Linked DNA regions of Homo sapiens. The protein of the gene in region 1 purifies or fractionates together with the protein of each later gene. This does not show direct contact. Each region holds a gene or a part of one and is shown in the gene's direction. Other genes may lie near its edges. The genes, in order: PDP2, YME1L1, AFG3L2 and CLPX.

Region 1 (5,669 bases):
ACCCTATATGACCTGTCTGCTGGGGGGAGGGAAGAAGTGTGCTTTTGCATTCTCTTGCACTCATTTATTAGAAACCCTTAGACTTTTTTTTAGTTTGGGTCTGAAACAGTCCTCTTAATATGCAGGAAGAGAGATATTGCCAGTCCTGACTTTGAACTTCTGGAAAGGGCTAAGGGTGAGTGGAACTATAAATATACAAGGGCAAGTCTGACATGAGCAGTTTTATTGTGACCACGTCCTTGGGTCCAGGAGGCTGGCCAGGCTGCCCAGGTAAGCCAGGGTGTCTTCCTTCTGGAAAACCACACTCTCAGGGCTCCAAGTGGCTTTTTCTGGTTGTCTCCCATTTTTCTCTGTCTCCAGGGAAGGACTCCATCTGACTTACCATAGTTACAAGAGTTCTGTGAAAATAATTTATAAGGAAGCAGGTCATCACTGGAATGCCACAATGTTAGGACCAGAAGGGACGGAGGGATTATCTGGTGTCGGGGTTCGCTGTCTCTCTCAACCTACCAGCCGCCAGCCGTGCTGAGTTAATTGTCAGTAGCAGGCCAATATAATGGTCAGTTCAAAGCTTAATGGTTTGTGGGAAACCACTAAAGACTTTAGGGCAGGAGGCCGGGCGCGGTGGCTCACGCCTGTAATCCCAGCACTTTGGGAGGCGGAGGCGGGCGGATCACGAGGTCAGGAGATCGAGACCATCCCGGCTAAAACGGTGAAACCCCGTCTCTACTAAAAATACAAAAAATTAGCCGGGCGTAGTGGCGGGCGCCTGTAGTCCCAGCTACTTGGGAGGCTGAGGCAGGGGAATGGCGTGAACCCGGGAGGCGGAGCTTGCAGTGAGCCGAGATCCCGCCACTGCACTCCAGCCTGGGCGACAGAGCGAGACTCCGTCTCAAAAAAAAAAAAAAAAAAAAAAAAAAAAGACTTTAGGGCAGGAATTTGAGGGTTTTTTTGGTTTGTTTTTGTTTCTGTTTTTGTTTTTTTTGAGACAGACTCTCACTCTGTCTCCCAGGCTGGCGTGCAGTGGCATGATCTCACCTCAGTGCAACTTCCACCTCCCTGGTTCAAATGATTCTCATGCCTCAGCCTCCCAGGTAGCTGGGACTACAGGCGCGCACCACCACTCCCAGCTAATTTTTGTATTTTTAGTAGAGACGGTTTCGTGATGTTGGCCAGGCTGGTCTCAAACTCCTGACCTCAGGAGATCCCCCCGCCTCGGCCTCCCAAAGTGCTGGGATTACAGGCAGGAGCCACCGCACTCGGCCTTGGAATTTGAGTTTTAGAAGTGTCATTCTGCCAGGCGTGATGGCTCACGTCTGTAATCCCAGCACTTTGGGGAGGCTGAGGTGGGAGGATTGCTTGAGCCCGGCAGTTTGAGACCAGCCTGGGCAACATAGAAAGACCTTGTCTCTACCCACCAACCACGAGAAAAGGTGGGAGGGGCGTCATTCTGGCTGCTCTGCTCTGTGGTTAGGACCAAGTCAAAGGTGGAGGAGGGAAAACCGTAAAATCAAGTGAGAGGCTTGGAATAGGGTGGCTGCGTCGCCGGATGGATGAGTGGAGAGAGATTTAGGAGATAGGATTTACAGCATTAGATAACTGGAAAGAGAGGGTGAGGGAGAGGAAGGAGTCAAGATGCCTCCCAGGGTTTTGGCTTGGGTCTCTGGGCAGATGGTGGGGCCATTACTGGGTTAGGAGAGAAGAGAAAAAGCAAGTTTGGCAGAAAGCTGAGTTTGGGGTAAGTTATGTTTGAGGCGCCTGGGGGCCTCCAGAGGCAGGTGTCCAGGTGGCTGGACATCAGGGTGTGGCGCTCAAGAGAGGGTTCTGGAGTGGTCGACACCGAAGTGGAGAGGAAGCAGTGAGGTGTTCTAACAACGGTGAGGAATTGGGGAGGCCGCTGGGTTCGGGGTATGCAGAGTGTAGCGGCCACGTAGCTGGCGATCTCAGGCACGTGACTGCCTGGTCCTGTGGCCCCGCGCTCGAACACTTTCAGCACCCAGGCAGGGGGTAAGGGGCGGTGTTGCCCCCTCCCGGGTCCCGCCTTTCTGCCCGCCTCTCATCCTCTTTAGCCATTGGGCAATACCTCTGTCCATCAAGGGCCCGCCTCCGCAATTGAGCCAACCAGGGCTGGCGGGAGGGCGCTTCCTTCTGGAGCTGGGTCCTGACTAGGGACCGCCTGGGTGAGGTGAGGACCTGGTGGCCGCAGTTGTGGCACTGTGCGCAGGCGCTGAACTGACCGGACGGAGCGGGCGGCTGTGGCCTCGCCAGCTGGTGAGAAGCGGGCGAGGGTCCGAGGTAGGGAAGGTAACGAGCGGGGGATGTGGACACCTCTTTCCCCGCCAGGCCTCGCCGGCGCCTGACCCTCCCGGCCTGCGGCACCGGCTCAGGTGACTGGGCGGAGGGAGAGCTGAGGTGAGGGGGCGGGTCCGCGGCGGAGAGGGACCAGCTGGGCCTACGACCACGGTCACCCCACTCACGTGCGCGCGCCACGTGGGCCCGCGGGCTCGCCGAGGACCCTTGGCTGCCTACCGGGGCACCCCACTAGCTGCTCTGGCCTATCGAGCACCCCTTGGAGCTCTGTGTCCCGACTGCACGCCCCTGTTTTACAGGCTGGCAAGCCGGGGCTCAGAGGCACCAAGCGGGTCGCCCGGGGGCACCCAGCTGGGGTACGGCCGTGCCGGGGTTCTAGGGAGATCGGTTTTGGTGGGCTCCGGAGTCCATGCACTTAGCGATGAGGCTGAAGTCAGAGATTTGAACTTGGGACCTGTCTGTTTTCTTTAAGGATGCAAGAGGGTTTGCGTCCTGGCTGCGGTGTATCACCCTGCACCGCTGCCTGCCTTGACTGCAGGGCCGGAGCGTCAGGCGCCCTCTGCTCCCGGACAGACCGCCCCCGCACCGACTTCTGCGGGGTGGGCTGGCAGGGGGTGGGGGAGTGAAGGGACGGTCCTCAGTCCTGGGAACTCTTGAGGTCCCGACAAATGATCTCGAGATCCCGAGGGCAGGATTCATACATGAAAAGCTCATTATAATGGGTCAAGGTTTTGTTCTGTTTTTTTTTTTTTAATTTAATTTAATTTAATTTAATTTAATTTAATTTATTATATTCCAAGGAAAAGTACCACCAGGGCTAGTGAAGGGACTAGGAAACTCGTCACCCCCTTGAGGAGGCAGATGTGAAGCTTTTGGAAATCAGTTTGGCAATGAGTCTACACCCTTGGACCTACTGACTCCTTGTTTGGGAAATAACTAGGATAAAACCTAAGTAGAGAAAAGGTTACTGCATAAAGCAGTACAGTTTGGTGGGGTTTTGTTGTTGTTGTTGTTTTTAAAGAGACAGATCTGGCTCTGTCGCCCAGGCTGGAGTGCAGTGGTGTGATCATAGCTCACTGCAGTCTTGAAATCTTGGGCTCAAGCGATCCTCCCACCTCAGCCTCTTGAGTAGCTGGGACTACAGGCACTTACCACCATGCCCAGCTAATCTAAAAATTTTTGTAGAGATGGGGCACTTGCTGTATCACCCAGGGTGGTCTTAAACTCCCTAGCCTCAAGTGATCCTCTTGCCTTGGCCTCCCAAAATGCTGAGATTATAGGCATGAGCCACTGTGCCCAGTCCAGTTTGGTATTTTATATTAATAAATAGCAAGTAGTAGAAACAACCTCTAAATTTCCAGCCGTAAAGAATAGTTAAGTAAGTTGTGATTATTTATGTCAAAATGTAGCCATCAGATGTGAAAAAATACTCTTATCAGGAAAGCCAGATTCAAAGTTGGGGTTACAACTCTACAAAAATACGTACAGAATGACTGTGCGCAGTAGCTCCCACCTGTAATCTCAGCACTTTGGGAGGCCAAGGGCGGAAGATCGCTTGAGCCTAGGAGTTTGAGACCAGCCTGGAAAACACGGGGAGACCCTGTCTATTAGCTGGGCCTGGCGGCACATGCCTGTAGTCCCAGCTATGTAGGAGGCTGAGGCAGGAGGATCCCTTGAGGCCAGAAGGGCAAGGCTGCAGTGAGCCACGATCTTACCATTGCACTCTAGCCTGGGGACAGAGCCAGGCTCCATCTCAAAAACAAAACAAAACAAAAAAAAACCAAACAAAAAATACCCAGAATGACTTAGAGGGGTATATACCTAATGATGAAAATAATAGCTACTTTTTTTTTTTTAGCAGAAGCGTCATATTTTATTAAATTCTCACAAAACCTTCTAAGACTAATATTCCCATTCCACCAATAGATAACTGGAGTGTTACCTCATCAGCAGTGTGTCTGATGCTACACAAGATAGTATCACAGCTAGTGTGCTATTGGGCCTCTGAAAATGTCATATTTAGCCAGTATTTGAGGACTTAGTGTGTGCCGGGTACAGGGCCAGGCACTGGAAAGCTGTTGGTGAGTAAGGCAGCCATAGTTGCTTGAGTCATGGAGTTTATAGACTAGTGGGGAAATATACATGTATATAAAATTTAGTTTTTGAGACAGGGTCTTGCTCTGTTGCCCAGGCTGGAGTGCAGTGGCAGGAGCACAGCTCATTGCAGTCTTGACCTCCAGGGCTTAAGCAATCCTCTCACCTCAGCCTTACAAGTGAATGGGGCTATAGGTGTGCGCCACCATGCCCAACTAATTTGTAAAAAAATTTTTTGTAGAAACCAGGTCTCCTTATGTTGCCCAGGCTGGTCTTGGAACTCCTAGGCTCAAGTGATCCTCCCGCCTCAGCCTTTGGAGTGGTTACAGGTATGAGCCACTATGCCCGAAGCAGATTATTTATTTATTTATTTATTTTTGAGACGGAGTTTCGCTCTCGCCCAGGCTGGAGTGCAGTGGTGCAATCTTGGCTCACTGCAAACTCTGCCTCCTGGGTTCACGCCATTCTCCTGCCTCAGCCTCCTGAGTAGCTGGGACTACAGGCGCCCATCACTGCACCCAGCTAAATTTTTGTATTTTTAGTAGAGACGGGGTTTCACTGTGTTAGCCAGGATGGTCTCGATCTCCTGAACTCGTGATCAGCCCACCTCGGCCTCCCAAAGTGCTGGGATTACAGGCGTGAGCCACCGCGTCAGGCCTGTTTTTGTTTTCTTTGAGACAGGGTCTCACTCCCTCTCTAGTGAGGCCCAGGCTAGACTGCAGTGGCACAATCACTGCTTTCTGCAGCCTCAACTTACCAGGCTCAGATGATTCTCCTACCTCAGCCTCCCAAGTAGCTGTGACTATAGATACACACCACCATGCCTGGCAATTTTTTTATTTTTTTTATTTTTTTGGAGAGACAGGGTTTCACCATGTTGCCCAGGCTAGTCTCGAACTCCTGGGCTCAAGCTATCCACCCACCTTGGCCTCCCAAAGTGCTAGGATTACAGGCATGAGCCACCAGGCCTGGCCCCCGAAGCAGATATTTAAATGAACACTTATAGTCTGCTGGTGAGAGTGAGTTTAGTGTATTTTAAATAGTTTATTCTAAGTCATTTTTGTTCAGGATATTAGCAAATGTTTTCAGAAGTCAGTATTTTTAAGAAATTAAATTTGTGGCTGGGTGCTTTGGCTCACGCCTGTAATCCCAGCACTTTGGGAGGCCGAGGCAGGTGGATCACAAGGTCAGGAGATCGAGACCATCCTGGCTAACATGGTGAAACCCTGTCTCTACTAAACATACAAAAAATTGGCCAGGTGTGG
Region 2 (4,876 bases), on another chromosome or scaffold:
TAATTTTGGACAAGATTCTGAAGTGAACCATTAGCAGAGACAAGTACGGTTTGCTGTGTTTCAAAATATTGGTTATTGGTGTGACCTCAGCCTGAAAATTATATAAATGAATAATTATTTATTTTATAGGTTCATATCGAGGGATTTTTTAAAAATACTTTGAATCATTCTCGTTTTCATTTTCTTTTAGGAATTCTTTTAGTTGGACCCCCAGGGACTGGAAAGACACTTCTTGCCCGAGCTGTGGCGGGAGAAGCTGATGTTCCTTTTTATTATGCTTCTGGATCCGAATTTGATGAGATGTTTGTGGGTGTGGGAGCCAGCCGTATCAGAAATCTTTTTAGTACGTTTTGGTGTATCTTTGATGCAGTGCTAAATTTTGTTAAGGGAAGTGTGTATCTTACCCTTTCTTTGCTAATTACTTTTTTTCTTCCTTTTTTTAATTTCTATTTTTTGGGGCCTCCAGCTTTGCATGCTAATTAGTTTTGATTGATAGTTAAAATAGCCATTGTGGGACCTTGGTTTGGGTAACTTACTATATGAATTATCGGAAGAGCTAGTGGAAGTGCAAGATGAAGTTGGAGGCTACCAAAAATCTCTTAGTGTTTTTTCATTTTATTCATCAATTTTGTAGTATGGAATTAAGGAGTAATTAGCTTCAAACCTGATTGTATATATTTGTATAGCTGGAAAGAATGAATGAATGCCCAACTGTTTTGTTTTATATCATTTCTTTGGTATAGTTTTTTCCCCCCTGAAGATACTATTTTTAAGTCAGTAAAAAATGACGTCCTTTTCTTTCAGTGAATATTTTTTGTTGGCTTTTGACAGTTGTATAGGATTTTAATATTTATCTCGTTTTGTTCAAAAGTGTTGACTTTCTTTCAGCTTATTTGAATGTTTTTTGTTTTCTTAGGGGAAGCAAAGGCGAATGCTCCTTGTGTTATATTTATTGATGAATTAGATTCTGTTGGTGGGAAGAGAATTGAATCTCCAATGCATCCATATTCAAGGCAGACCATAAATCAACTTCTTGCTGAAATGGATGGGTAATTGAGTCTTCTTTTTTCTTAGAATATGGTGATGCCTCCCAGCATTTGATATACGTAGAATTGATCTTATGCAAATTATTTCCATAAGGCATTTCATATCTAGAGATATGAAAAATGTGATGTGTATAGGAAACAGAGTAGTCCCTCATGCAAGAACTCAAGACAAGCTTTTTCTCTCAGTATTGTATTGTTTTCATTACTAACTGGATATTTGAATATCAACTCATCTTATTTAATTTATGGTATTTATATCCTTTCTCATTTATTGTTACACTTATGACAGAAAAACAATGATTTATGCCGAGACTAGTAGTCTATTTGAAGAAATACAGTTGTTTCTACATAATTTATGACTAACTTTGAGTGTTGTGGCAGATTTAAAGCTTACATCAATGTTCATAATATAAGAAGCAAGAGGTGATGTTGCTTTGAAAGAAGTATCTTAAAACTCAATATAAGACATTTTGAAACCACATAGGAAGCCCAGGAGCAAATAATTTGAATTGGTATACTTGAAAGTAATTTTTCAAAAATTAACCAGGCACCTAAGCTTTTTATATCAGGTTATCTTTTCCTGCATAGACCAGATAATTGTGAAGGTATGTAGTCAGAGATGAATTGGTGGTTTATTATCAGTTTCTTTTCTTGGCTGTTATTTGATTAATGAAGCTGGGCATGGTGGCTCACGCCTGTAATGCCAGGACTTTTGGAAGCCAAGGTGGGAGGATTGCTTGAGGCCAGGAGTTCAAAACCAGCCTGGTCAAGATAGCAAGACCCTATCTCTACTAAAAATAAAAACAGTCACCGGGCACAGTAGCTCAAGCCTATAATCCTAGCACTTTGGGAGGCTGAGGCGGGTGTATTGCTTGAGGTCAGGAGTTCAAGACCAACCTGGCCAACATGGTGAAACCCCGTCTTTACTAAAAATATAAGAATTAGCTGGGTGTGGTGGCAGGCGCCTGTAATCCTGGCTACTCAGGAAGCTGAGACATGAGAATTGCTTGAACCTGGGAGATGGAGGTTGCAGTGAGCACCATTGAACTCCAACCTGGGTGACAGTGAGACTCCATCTCCAAAAAAAAAAAAAAATAGTGGCTTGTACCTAGAAATTGGGGAGAAAAGATTTAAAAATAAATAAAAAATAAATTAGTCAGATATGTTGGCATGCACCTGTCATTCCAGCTACTTGAGAGGTTGAGGCAGAAGGTTCACTTCAACCCAGGAGTTTGAGGCAGCAGTGAGCTATGATCATACTGGTGCGCTTCAGCCTAGGCCACAAAGCGAGTCCTAGTCTCAAAAAAAGAAAACAAACCAGTTTTGTGTAGAGCATTTCTACATGTGTGCTGTGCTTCAGTGTTAGTAAAAGATACTATTTTTTTTCCAATATAGTTTTAAACCCAATGAAGGAGTTATCATAATAGGAGCCACAAACTTCCCAGAGGCATTAGATAAGTAAGTATTAAAAGAAGATTTTTGTGAAGTACTGTTACATGCTACAAAATTGTGCTAAAAGAAGTCCGTTGCAAAAGATCACATCAACACTGTATGATTCCATTTATATGCAATATCCAGAATAAGCAAATTCACAGAGACAAATTGGGTTAGCGGTTACCAGAGGTTAGGGAGAATGGGGAATGGCTGTCATTGGATATGGGATTTCTTTGTGGGGGATGGGAATATTCTAAAATTAGATTGTGGTGATGGTTGTACAATTCTGAATGTATTAAAAACCACTGAAGTATCCACTTTAAATTATGTGAATTACATCTCAATAAAACTTAAAATATTTATTTGTTATATGTCACAAAAGTTGTATGTAGAGAGGGTTTTTAAAATAAATTAACTGTAGTATTATAACTAGGTTTAAAGTTACTATGAAAAAATTTTACTGTAGAAGTTATTCGTATTTTCATTTGATCAGTAGTTTGTCACTGCCTAAGACTCTAGTCTAACATTCTGTACTTAGCAGTTGAGATGGATGTGTGGTTCTCATAATAGTTTGTTGTGGAATTATTTGTTCCTGGACTGAATTACCTGCATGCTTTTGTTTCTGAGGGGTAGGCTACCTAGGTACACACGTGTATCTAAATGAACCTTTGTTCTGCTTTCTGGTTATTGACACTGTTACTTGAGCCATGTTTTAAAGGAACTATCTGAATATTTATGTACAAAACTCCATCTGCGCTCTGGCTGCCATTGGCTTCCCAGTCACGTCATTAGGGTGTCAGTCCTGTTGAATTTGAGCTTAAATAGTTTTAATTTATATTTTCCTTTTGCATTCTTCCTGTAGTGCCTTAATACGTCCTGGTCGTTTTGACATGCAAGTTACAGTTCCAAGGCCAGATGTAAAAGGTCGAACAGAAATTTTGAAATGGTATCTCAATAAAATAAAGTTTGATCAATGTAAGTATCAAAACAAACATTTGTCATTTCTGTAAAGTGGTAATATACCACTCACCCTGTTTGTGGTCCTTTCATGATACATGTATTAACATTAAAAGACCAGTTCATTTTTGTCTTTTTTTTTTCCATTAGTATGTTCGTTTAAAAGTCCATTCCTTAGTGTATATCCAGGAGATTCTATTGTTTTGAACCCTGAGTCTAAAGAAAGGTTTTTTTAGAGTATTCAGACAGATAATATTTGAGGATACATACATATACATACACACACACACATTTTTTTAAGATGAATGTAAAATGCAAAATAATTTAAAAAAGCTGCAGAAACAGTAACTCATGATATAGTCAGTGTGGGGCCAAAAGAGAAGAAAGCAAATTATAAAACAAAACACATGGAAATTTATTACTCACTTGAGTAATAAATGAAATTATTAAAGCTGCAGTAGTTTCAGAGATAGCTGTATCAATTCATTAAACTATACATGTTTCCTATAAGGGCAGCTTTTATGTCTAAAGTATTTCCAGATGAAATTCAGAGAAAAAGTGACTAAACTATGGCTCAGAATAGCTAGCTATTTTCTTTTTTCCCTTGGAATGTGAGGTGTTTTTTTTTTTTGGTTTTTTTTTGAGACAAGAGTTTTGCCCTTTTTGCCTAGGCTGGAGTGGAGTGGCACAATCTTGGCTTACTGCAACCTCCACCTCCCGGGTTCAAGTGATTCTTCTGCCTCAGCCTTCTGAATAGCTGGGATTACAGGTGCATGCCACCATGCCCAGCTAATTTTTGTATTTTTAGTAGAGATGGGGTTTCACCATGTTGGCCAGGATGGTCTCCAACTCCTGTCCTTAGGTGATCTGCCTGCCCCAGCCTCCCAAAGTGCTGGGATTACAGGCATGAGCCAACGCACCCAGTTGGAATGTGAGTTCTTTGTGAAGAGCTTTCTTTTACCTGTTTTAGACTTATTAGCGTTGTGTTCTCTTTTTACATTAGCCGTTGATCCAGAAATTATAGCTCGAGGTACTGTTGGCTTTTCCGGAGCAGAGTTGGAGAATCTTGTGAACCAGGCTGCATTAAAAGCAGCTGTTGATGGAAAAGAAATGGTTACCATGAAGGAGCTGGAGTTTTCCAAAGACAAAATTCTAATGGGTAGGTTTCCTTTCTTTTTTTTCTGTCTTTTACTTTTCATTGTGTTAGATAATTCATTTAGGGGCAAATACTCTATTCAAACAGCTAAAGCCATGGCTATGTTGAATCTAATCTTACTCTAAAACTTCAGTGTCTGGGTTTTCAAGATTTGTAATAAATGATTTTACAAAATTCCCAACTTAACATCAAACAAATGCCATTAAACTGTAACATTTTCTTGACAATAATCTTGTCAGTGATACAGAACTGATTTTATAGTGTACCACATTTATTAGTTTTG
Region 3 (4,876 bases), on another chromosome or scaffold:
TTGACCATATTATCTACCTCCTCACAGTATTTGGATATGGTAGTGTGGTAGTATGTCTATAAATAAGAGAGGATACTGTTTGTGGGTAGTCAGTGGAAATAAAAACAAATTCACAGTTAGGTTTTAAGTTGCACGTCCAACCATGCTAAAAATGTACTGATTTGTACATGAAAGTAGAAGTCAGAAGTTGGGTTTATTAATTATTTGAGCTCAAAAACCAATTTTACTTGTAAAGAGTAAAAGAATTACATAAATCAGGAGTGTGGTGTTGGTGTCTTCTTAAATTATTTAAGTAAACCTTAGCAGATTTATTAGTATATTCCTAGCCCAAGTCACCCTTTACATACTGTTAGACTAAAGGTCTAAAAATCAGCCCTAGGAAAAAAAGGAAATATTTTAAATTTCACATTCTTACCAAATTTTTTGAAACAAAATTATTTTTGATAATCTTTTTATTCTTACTAATATAAAAATGTTCTACCATAGCTCAGATGTTTAAGTAATATTTAATATATATCAATAAGATTTAGAGACAGAGTTATATCTTGTAATTATTTGTGGATACACAATTTACTTTTCTGGAATTCTCATTAAATGTAATTTCTTTTTTCATATCTGAAGGGTGCCATTCTCACTGGTCCTCCAGGCACTGGGAAGACGCTGCTAGCTAAGGCCACAGCCGGAGAAGCCAATGTCCCCTTCATCACCGTTAGTGGATCTGAGTTTTTGGAGATGTTCGTTGGTGTGGGCCCTGCTAGAGTGAGTCTCATTCTGTTCGGATGGTACAGCTTCCTTGCACCCACCACTTCACCACAGATGGAGGCACTTGCTAGAGATGGCCCTTCCCCCTAGAGTGCTAGAGTGACCTCTCACCAGTCCCTGGCCTGAGCTCTCCTCCAGGCCTAAGACTTCAGCAAGGCCTGTGACTTCCACCCCACCTTCCCTCGCACCAGCTAGGACTGCAGTCTGCTACCTATAGTAGACCAATTTAAAGAATTGACGGCTGGGCGCGGTGGCTCATGCCTGTAATTCCAGCACTTTGGAAGGCTGAAGTGGGTGGAACGCTTGAAGTCAGGAGTTCGAGACCAGCCTGGCCAACATGGCGAAACCCTGTCTGTACTAAAAATAGAAAAATTAGCCAGGCGTGGTCGCGCATGCCTATAATCCCAGCTATTTCGGAGGCTGAGGCAGGAGAATCTCTTGAACCCAGGCGGCAGAAGTTGCAGTGAACCAAGATGACACCACTGCATTCCAGCCTGGGCAACAGAGTGAGACGCTGTCTCAAAAAAAAAAAAAAAATTTTGCTTTATTTGTGGATTTTTTTTTTTTTTGGTGACAACATTTATTGAGATATAATTGACATACCAAACAATTGATCCCTGTAAAGTATACAGTTCAGTAGCTTTTAGTAATTCACAGATTTGTGCAACCATCACCACAATCAGTTTTACAACATTTCCATTACATCAAGAAGAAATCGTGGCCGGGCGTGGTGGCTCACACTTGATATCCCAGCACTTTGGGAGGCCAAGGCAGGCGGATCAGGAGGTCTGGAGATCGAGACCATCCTGGCTAACATGGTGAAACACCATCTCTACTAAAAAAACAAAACCAAAATTAGCCATGCGTGGTGGCGGGCGCCTGTAGTCCCAGCTACTTGGGAGGCTGAGGCAGGAGAATGGCGTGAACCTGGGAGGCAGAGCTTGCAGTGAGCTGAGATCACGCCACTGCACTCCAGCTTGGGTGACAGAGTGAGACTCGTCTCAAAAAAAAAAAAAATATGTAAATCGGGAGTCCTAAGCAAACTACCCAAAGGAATTTCCTAGTACAGACATTCCATGTAAATGAAATTATACAATATGTGGTTTTTTTATGCCTGATTTCTTTCACTTAACATGTTTTTGAATGGTAACTCCATGTTTAACATTTTAAGGAACCACCAGACTGTTTTCCAAACTACTTGCCCATTTTCCATCCCTACCAGCAATGTGTAAGGGGTTCTGATGTTTCCCCGCCCTTACCAACACTTTGATGATAGCCACCTTAGTGGGTGTGATGTAGTATCTCGTGGTTTTGATTTGCATTTCCATGATGAGGAGTGATGTTGAACATCTTGTATATGCTTATTGGCCATTTGTATATTTGTATATCTTCCTTGGAGAGTTGTCTATTCAGATCCTTTGCTCATTTTTTAATTGGGTTTTTTTGGTTGTTGAATTGTAAGAGTTCTTTTTTTTTTTTTTTAATTTTTTTTGAGATGGAGTCTTGCTCTGTCGCCCAGGCTGGAGTGCAGCGGCATAACCTCTGCCTCCCGGGTTCAAGTGATTCTGCCTCAGCCTCCCTAGTAGCTGGGATTGCAGGCACCCACCACCATGCCCAGCTAATTTTTGTATTTTTAGTAGAGATGGGGTTTCACTATGTTGGCCAGGCTGGTATTGAACTCCTCACTTCAGGTGATGCACCCCCTGCCTTGCCCTCCTAAAGTGCTGGGATTACAGGCGTGAGCCACCTTGTCCGGCCTCACCTTCACATCTATTTCACACTTTGCTGTTGTTGTGCAGATAAGTCATAGAAAAATAGGGAATGAGGGGGAGTTGGGTGTTAATGATGATGGGCCATGAGATATAAAGTGGATGGGGGGAAATTGAAGACAGGAGAGGAGCTGTGGGGGGTGGTGGGGAAGGGTGGGCCTGGTGGGTTGCAGAGCTGAGAAGTGGTAAAGAGTTGGCGTGAGATACCTGAGTGTGTCTGTGGGTCCAGATGATAGGAGGGGGTGCTCAGAGAGTAGATGACTTGAAGATGGTGGTTTAAAAGGCAACCTTGGCAGTGCTGGTCTTGTCAGAGTGAAGTAAAAGGTGAATGAAGGGGTGGTCAGGGAACTGAGAGACCGAGAGCCACATGGATGGAAATCACTGAGGACATCATGCCTAGTGGCAGTCAGGCTGGGGGAGACCCATGGCACAGTGGGGTGGAGTGCCTGCCACAAGGCCTGAGCCTCAGCAAGCAGGGGCTTTTCCAGCAGTTATTTTGGCAGCAGCAGTGGGGTGTGAGGTGGACCCCAGCTCCAGTTAGCCTGTAGGGGAAGATGCAGACTCCTGCTTAAGGCTTGCTGGAATGGCTGAGTTCCTGTTCATGCCGGGATGGGATGGATGTACTATGAAGGTGTGGGTCTGTAGGTCACAGATCTGGAATTCAGAGGGGAGGCTGGAGAAGGATACCAGTTATTTTAGGGGATGTGTTCAGAGCAGTGTAGGAATGAACATCCAGAAATCCAGGCAGGAAGACCTGGACTTCTGTCCAGTGAAGTGGGGGGGGGGGGGTGGGAGTGGGCAGGTGGAGAGTTGTCTCTGATTCTCCTTGAAGGGGCAGGTGACTGATGGTGAGGTGCTGAGTGGCTCTTCCTCCTCTTCCTGACTGCAGGTTTGTCTGAGGGTATGTGCTATCAGGATGGTCTGTGGTGGGGTGGGTGGCAGACGAAGGCTGTCACCCCCTCTTTGGGGATGAGCTGATGGGCTTGGATGGTCTTTGGCTTCACTGTATATGTGTGATTGCATAGACTCCTTAGTAGCCTCAGCTTGTTAATAACTGTGTTAGGCATGAAATGTGAACTCTAGAGAAGTCTGAACTTTTCAACTGAATGTAAAGTTTACAGCTCTACTGTGTTGTCTTTGTTTAGGTATATATGTAATGTTAATTTGTTGATGTTACAAAAATAGCAGATATTATCAGTGTTTATTACATATACAGTAATTTATGGGATCTGAGAAAGATTTGCTCACCTTAAGTCGGTTACCCAGGTTACTCCTCATTTGCTGCTGCTTTGCTACTTGTAACTCTTTTAAAAAATGTACCTTACAGTGTGTATCACAAAAAGATTGTCTGCACATGGGACGGGAAGCTGAAGATTTATTTCATTTTTTTTTTTTTTTTTTTTTTTTGAGACAGAATTTCGCTCTTGTTGCCCAGGCAGGAGTGCAATGGCTCAGTCTCAGCTCACTGCAACCTCTGCCTCCCAGGTTCAAGCGATTCTCCTGCCTCAGCCTCCTGAGTAGCTGGGATCACAGGCACGCGCCACCATGCCTGCCTAATTTTGTATTTTTAGTAGAGATGGGGTTTCTCCATGTTGGTCAGGCTGGTCTCGAACTCCTGACCTCAGGTGATCCACCAGCCTCGGCCTCCCACAGTGCTGGGATTACAGGCATGAGCCACTGTGCCCGGCCGATTTATTTCATTTCTTATTCAGAGAATACATAATATTCTCTGGTCAGGTGACTCTCTTTCTGTTTTTGCCAAGGTCCGAGACTTATTTGCCCTTGCTCGGAAGAATGCCCCTTGCATCCTCTTCATCGATGAAATCGATGCGGTGGGAAGGAAGAGAGGAAGAGGCAACTTTGGAGGGCAGAGTGAGCAGGAGAACACACTCAACCAGCTGCTGGTGGAGATGGATGGTGAGTGGTCAAGGCTTTTGTATCTTTAACTGCACTTTTGTTTTTTTTTTTGAGATGGAGTCTGACTCTGTCGTCCAGGCTGAAGTGAGTGGTGTGATTTCGGCTCACTGCATCCTCTGACCCCTGGGTTCAAGCGATCCTCCTGCCTCAGTCTCCTGAGTTTAAGCTGCACTTTTTATGCCTTTCATGTCCCCAAAATGAGAGTCCTTATTCCAATATTGAGTATCACAAACAAAAAAAAGCATTCCCTAAAACAAACAGCTCTTTTAAAAGGCCCTTTTATACTAATACAAATAATAGCAAAATATTTTTTCCTGGCAGCCTGCATAACTTAATATCGGTGTTAACATGCTGTTTGTGTCTGGTGTTTGAATAAGAGAAGAATTGGTGAAATGAGTCACAAAAGAATTACCATCTCATTCTCTAAA
Region 4 (4,876 bases), on another chromosome or scaffold:
ACAGGAGGTGGGATACTCATTGTTTGTTCCCCCAAGGTAAACAAATATGTAATATTTTCATCCTCTTTCTTAGAGTTAGAAATAAGAAGACGGGAGGATGAGTACAGATTTACAAGTAAGTGACTTCAGGTCCTCCTCTGTAATCATTCTTCCTTTTGACATTTATTTCAGTGAAGTGTTTCAGCAGTAACAGTGATAGACATGTATGTATTTGCTTGTGTATTACCAAGAAAGATACGTATTATCTAAATGTGTTTATCCTACATGGTATATATAACTTTGGAATAGTTTTTCATAGCTAATTTGTGTCGTTTCCATATGTTGGGTTATTTTTTATTTTTTCTATCAAACTACAATTAGAGTTGGCCTGCTTCTTGTGGGTCACAGGAATTTGGGGGAGGCAGATTATTTTCTAGCTACTCTTTGCCAGAAAGCACACTGTTTTTTGGTTTTTTTTGTATTTATGAAACTTACAGTCTTACAAATTATGAGTAAGTCTTAATTCACTGTTTCCAGCCCCAGATTGCCCCTACAAGCATCAGATGGTCCGATGGAGGGTGTGGAAGGACTTGATAGACCAAGGAGAGTGGCCTTTCTGTTGTGTTCCACCTATTCCTTTGGAGGTGGATATAGTTAGTTGCTGCATTGAGGGTGGAGGTTCCAGGGGTGTCATAGAAAGATTCACATGGCCTTTTGTTTTAGTAATTGAAATAAAGAAAATTAGCTAAGTTTGATGTTTTTACATTTGCCTTTGAACCAAGTAGTATTATATATCCACTATTTGAAGTGTACTATATATAGGATGAGCCATGAGAATATAACTTGTGTACCAACTTGGGCATGACATTTATCACATGTAATAAAATTACATTATCCCCAGTTATTTTTAAATTTATAGAAATACTGATTATACCATGCGTGGTAAAATTAAGAAATACAGTAAGTGCAATAGAATTAGATTGTATATAAGAATGTAAAATCTAAATAATAACCTTTAGGTATATATGTAATTTATTTCATAATAAAAAAATATATTCAGATATGCAGTCAATACCATACTCATAAATTGTGTTGACAGCTAGTTAACCTATACTAAATTAGTAAAGAAAGTCTGTAGTGCATATTTTGAAAGACATGTCATGTAATATATGTAGTGATTTAATGTTATTTAAATGTTAACAAGTAACAGTATTTAAGAACTTATGTAAAAGATTGACTTAGAAACAAATATTTCAAAAGCTTAAATTTATTGTCATGTGCAGTTTTGTTGTGTTTTACATGGGATTTTAAGTTCTAAAGTTAGGTTGTTAACTAACACTGGCTGGGGGTGTTAGACCCTAACACTGGTCTAGGGTTTTAGACCAAAATCATGTACAATAAGATTAATTCTTATAAGTCCCTTTGGAAGTCAAATTTTAGAGACCAACATACAGCTTTTAGGAGGACTGACACAATTGGCTTTTTTTCTCCATCTTTGGAATATAATGTTGTTTTTTAAGTTGAGCACCAGATGAAATACTTTGTTTGCGTTTAAGGGCTGTGTTGTGTGAATAATTAAACACTAGGGAAATGGTAATAATAATACCAGATTCTTCTGTAACACTTATAAAACTATCTGCCAGGTATTGTTCTAAGTGTTTTGCATATATTCATTTAATCTCCCCTAAACCCATGAGACAGAAACTATTATTTTTATCTCCATTTTAGAAGTAAGAAAACTGAAACACAGAAATTTTAAGTAATTTGTCCGTGGCCACACAGCTGGTGAGCTCTGTGCAGCTAACTACTACACTAGCCTGCTTGCTCATGGTCCTCATTTTAGAGAGCTGTGCTTACACAGTGAGAGATGCACAAACAGGGACTAACTGAAAGAATCGGAGAGTTGTCTCAAGTTTGTTCTAAGGCATATACTCATAAAATGGGATGATGGATATCATCTGTATCATTTAAATTATTTCTTTTTTAAACTTAAATCATTAAATAAGTTAAATACATAGATTATGTGGTTCCACTGTAATTAATATGCCCCTTGCAATTTTGTTCATTTATTCATCTAAATCGTGTGTGTGTGTGTGTGTGTGTGTGTGTGTGTGTGAGAGAGAGAGAGAGAGAGAGAGAGAGAGAGAATGAGTGAATGACAAGCACCTGCTGGCCTTGCTGATCTGAAGCTACATCTAAATCATTTTTTCCCTTTGGGCAGAGCTAAACTTAACCCAAGCCCCTTCCTATGTTATCACAATCCCTAACCAGATTTTGCTGAAATTTTAAAAAGTACTTTGCTAGTGACAATTTAACTATCCTCATACAGCAGACTGAGTTTTCTTGGCTGATGTGGATTATAATGAGGCACAACATTGTGAATTATTCACTAATTATTAACCCTCAAAGGTAGCACAATTTAATCCAGATGTTTATGGAATGCTTATTGTTTTTGATGAATAGAATAACCCTTTACCTTAAGTATGAAGATAGTTTGAAAGTGACAGCCAGATGGAATAGGACTATGATAATAGATATGTCTGCCAAACTATTATTCTATCAGTTTAATTAAAATAATCATTGGAAAGTCTGATTTTCTGAATCAATTTCTTAGAAAATAAAATTTAGGCCAGGCGCGGTGTCTCATGCCTGTAATCCCAGTACTTGGGGAGGCTGAGGCGGGTGGATCACCTGAAGTCAGCAGTTCAAGACCAGCCTGGGCAACATGGCAAAACCCCGTCTCTACTAATAATACAAAAATTAGCCAGGTGTGGTGGCGTGTGCCTGTAATCCCAACTACTCGGGATGCTGAGGCAGGAGAATCACTTGAACCCAGGAGGCGGAGGTTGCAGTGAGCTGAGATTGCACCACTGCACTCCAGCCTGGACAACAGAGAGAGACTCTGTCTCAAAATAAAAAAAAAAAAAAGAAAAGAAAATGTAAAAATAAATTCAGGAAATATAAACAAGTATGTTGTGATAACAGGTACTCAAATGCTAAGAACCAAGAACAATCTGAATATTTACAAATCTGGATAATCTTTCCTTCAGCCAAGAGAAAGTGAGAATAAAGATTTATTTATTTCATTTTTATTTTGTTTTGTTTTATTTTATTTTAATTTTATTTTTTTGAGACAGAGTCTTACTCTGTTGCCCAGGCTGGAGTGCAGTGGCGTGATCTTGGCTCACTGCAACCCCCGCCTCCCGGGTTCAAGCAATTCTCCTGCCTCGGCCTCCCAAGTAGCTGGGACTATAGGCGCGTGCCATCACATCTGGCTAATTTTTTATTTTTAGTAGAGATGGGGTTTCACCGTGTTGGCCAGGCTGTTCTCAAACTCCTGACCTCAGGTGAGCCACCATGCCTAGCCTAAAGATTTATTTTTGTAGGAATCTGGCTGATAAACTGATAACCTCACTAGCAATGTCAGTCCCATCTAGTCATTAGCAATGTCAGTCACATCTAGTTAAGTGTTATGTCTCTAATAAAGGAAATAGAAAGATCCAGTACAGGTCCAATAAAATTAGAGATTTAGATAGGGCCAGAGATAGTAAGGTGTATCATATTTGGTTTCTCTAGTAGATTTTATTGATTAGGAAACAGGAACATAAAGTTTATATGACTTGCCCTAGATCATGTAGCTTCTACTTAGAGACAAAGGAAGGTCCAGAGCTAAAGCTTTCTAACTCCTGGCTCTGCTCTTCTGTTGTATTGCCTTCCCTTGGGTAAAGGAGTATTCTTACATATTTATATAAATAAGGACAGTAAAAAAAATCAATTTCCTTTGCTTGAGGTTCTTTATATAATCATTGTGTGCTATATGTTTGTCACTAGATAATTTGAGATTTTTCTCCTTTGTAGGTAAGACAGAATGTCAAAATACTTAAATTTTTCTATGTCGATATTTAGTTTTAGATAAAAGTTTTTATGGGACATTTTCTTCAAGTAAATTCAAATGAAGCTCAAGTAATTCCTTTGGCATTTTTTTCAGAATTGCTTCAGATTGCTGGAATTAGCCCACATGGTAATGCTTTAGGAGCATCAATGCAGCAACAGGTAAATCAACAAATACCTCAGGAAAAACGAGGAGGTGAAGTATTGGATTCTTCTCATGATGACATAAAACTTGAAAAAAGTAATATTTTGCTGCTTGGACCAACTGGGTCAGGTAAATAACTTGCTGAGAAAATTTACTACTCATTTTAAAAATCAGAATATAAATGATTCTATAACCTGTATCTTGCGATTGAAGTATTACGGCTCTTGAGAAGAAAATCTAAGGCCAGTCATCTAGATACACTATCAGTATTCCTGCATAGAATACAAACTGGATTTGAGGCATTGGTGTTGCCCTTCAGGCCAATCCCTAACATCTTCACAGGAATAATAAAATAAAAAACAGCTATATCTAAATAATAATAGATCGGATGTAGTGGCTCACACCTGTAATCCCAGCATTTTGGGAGACAAAGGTGGGAGGATCACTTGAGGCCAAGAGTTTGAGACCAGCCTAGGCAACAGAGCAAGACTCTATCTCTATAAAAAATAAAGTATTAGTTGGGCGTGGTAGCACATGCCTGTAGTCCTGAGGCTGAGGCAGGAGGATCACTTAAGCCCAGGAGATTGAGGCTGGAGTGAGCCATGATCACAGGCTGCACTCCAGCCTGGGTGACAGAGCAAGAACCTGTCTCTAAAAAAAATAATAGCAGAGGAAGGATGTAGCAATTGACAACTTTTTATTATATACTACTAAAATTTATTTTGCATTTTTATTGAAAAATTGTGTGCCAATATATTTTCAGTAAACTTTTAGTGACTGTTTCTATTTGTAGGTAAAACTCTGCTGGCACAAACCCTAGCTAAATGCCTTGATGTCCCTTTTGCTATCTGTGACTGTACA

What was found.
Region 2: the proteins of PDP2 (region 1) and YME1L1 purify together in Homo sapiens (affinity purification with mass spectrometry; one large-scale study listed by BioGRID and IntAct). This does not show direct contact.
Region 3: the proteins of PDP2 (region 1) and AFG3L2 purify together in Homo sapiens (affinity purification with mass spectrometry; one large-scale study listed by BioGRID and IntAct). This does not show direct contact.
Region 4: the proteins of PDP2 (region 1) and CLPX purify together in Homo sapiens (affinity purification with mass spectrometry; one large-scale study listed by BioGRID and IntAct). This does not show direct contact.

The regions. Positions count from the first base shown.
Region 1 is NC_000016.10:66,878,370-66,884,038, forward strand, and holds the start of PDP2 ([Pyruvate dehydrogenase [acetyl-transferring]]-phosphatase 2, mitochondrial precursor), read left to right. Parts: upstream 1-2,145; 5' UTR 2,146-2,271; exon of another isoform or gene 2,272-2,412; intron 2,413-4,645; exon of another isoform or gene 4,646-4,733; intron 4,734-5,669. UniProt on the Homo sapiens protein: Mitochondrial enzyme that catalyzes the dephosphorylation and concomitant reactivation of the alpha subunit of the E1 component of the pyruvate dehydrogenase complex (PDC), thereby stimulating the conversion of pyruvate into acetyl-CoA.
Region 2 is NC_000010.11:27,119,014-27,123,889, reverse strand, and holds part of YME1L1 (ATP-dependent zinc metalloprotease YME1L1), read left to right. Parts: intron 1-190; coding exon 191-343; intron 344-916; coding exon 917-1,049; intron 1,050-2,441; coding exon 2,442-2,504; intron 2,505-3,342; coding exon 3,343-3,455; intron 3,456-4,440; coding exon 4,441-4,596; intron 4,597-4,876. UniProt on the Homo sapiens protein: ATP-dependent metalloprotease that catalyzes the degradation of folded and unfolded proteins with a suitable degron sequence in the mitochondrial intermembrane region.
Region 3 is NC_000018.10:12,352,577-12,357,452, reverse strand, and holds part of AFG3L2 (mitochondrial inner membrane m-AAA protease component AFG3L2), read left to right. Parts: intron 1-621; coding exon 622-759; intron 760-4,294; coding exon 4,295-4,448; intron 4,449-4,876. UniProt on the Homo sapiens protein: Catalytic component of the m-AAA protease, a protease that plays a key role in proteostasis of inner mitochondrial membrane proteins, and which is essential for axonal and neuron development.
Region 4 is NC_000015.10:65,157,843-65,162,718, reverse strand, and holds part of CLPX (ATP-dependent clpX-like chaperone, mitochondrial precursor), read left to right. Parts: intron 1-73; coding exon 74-115; intron 116-3,967; coding exon 3,968-4,144; intron 4,145-4,808; coding exon 4,809-4,876. UniProt on the Homo sapiens protein: ATP-dependent chaperone that functions as an unfoldase.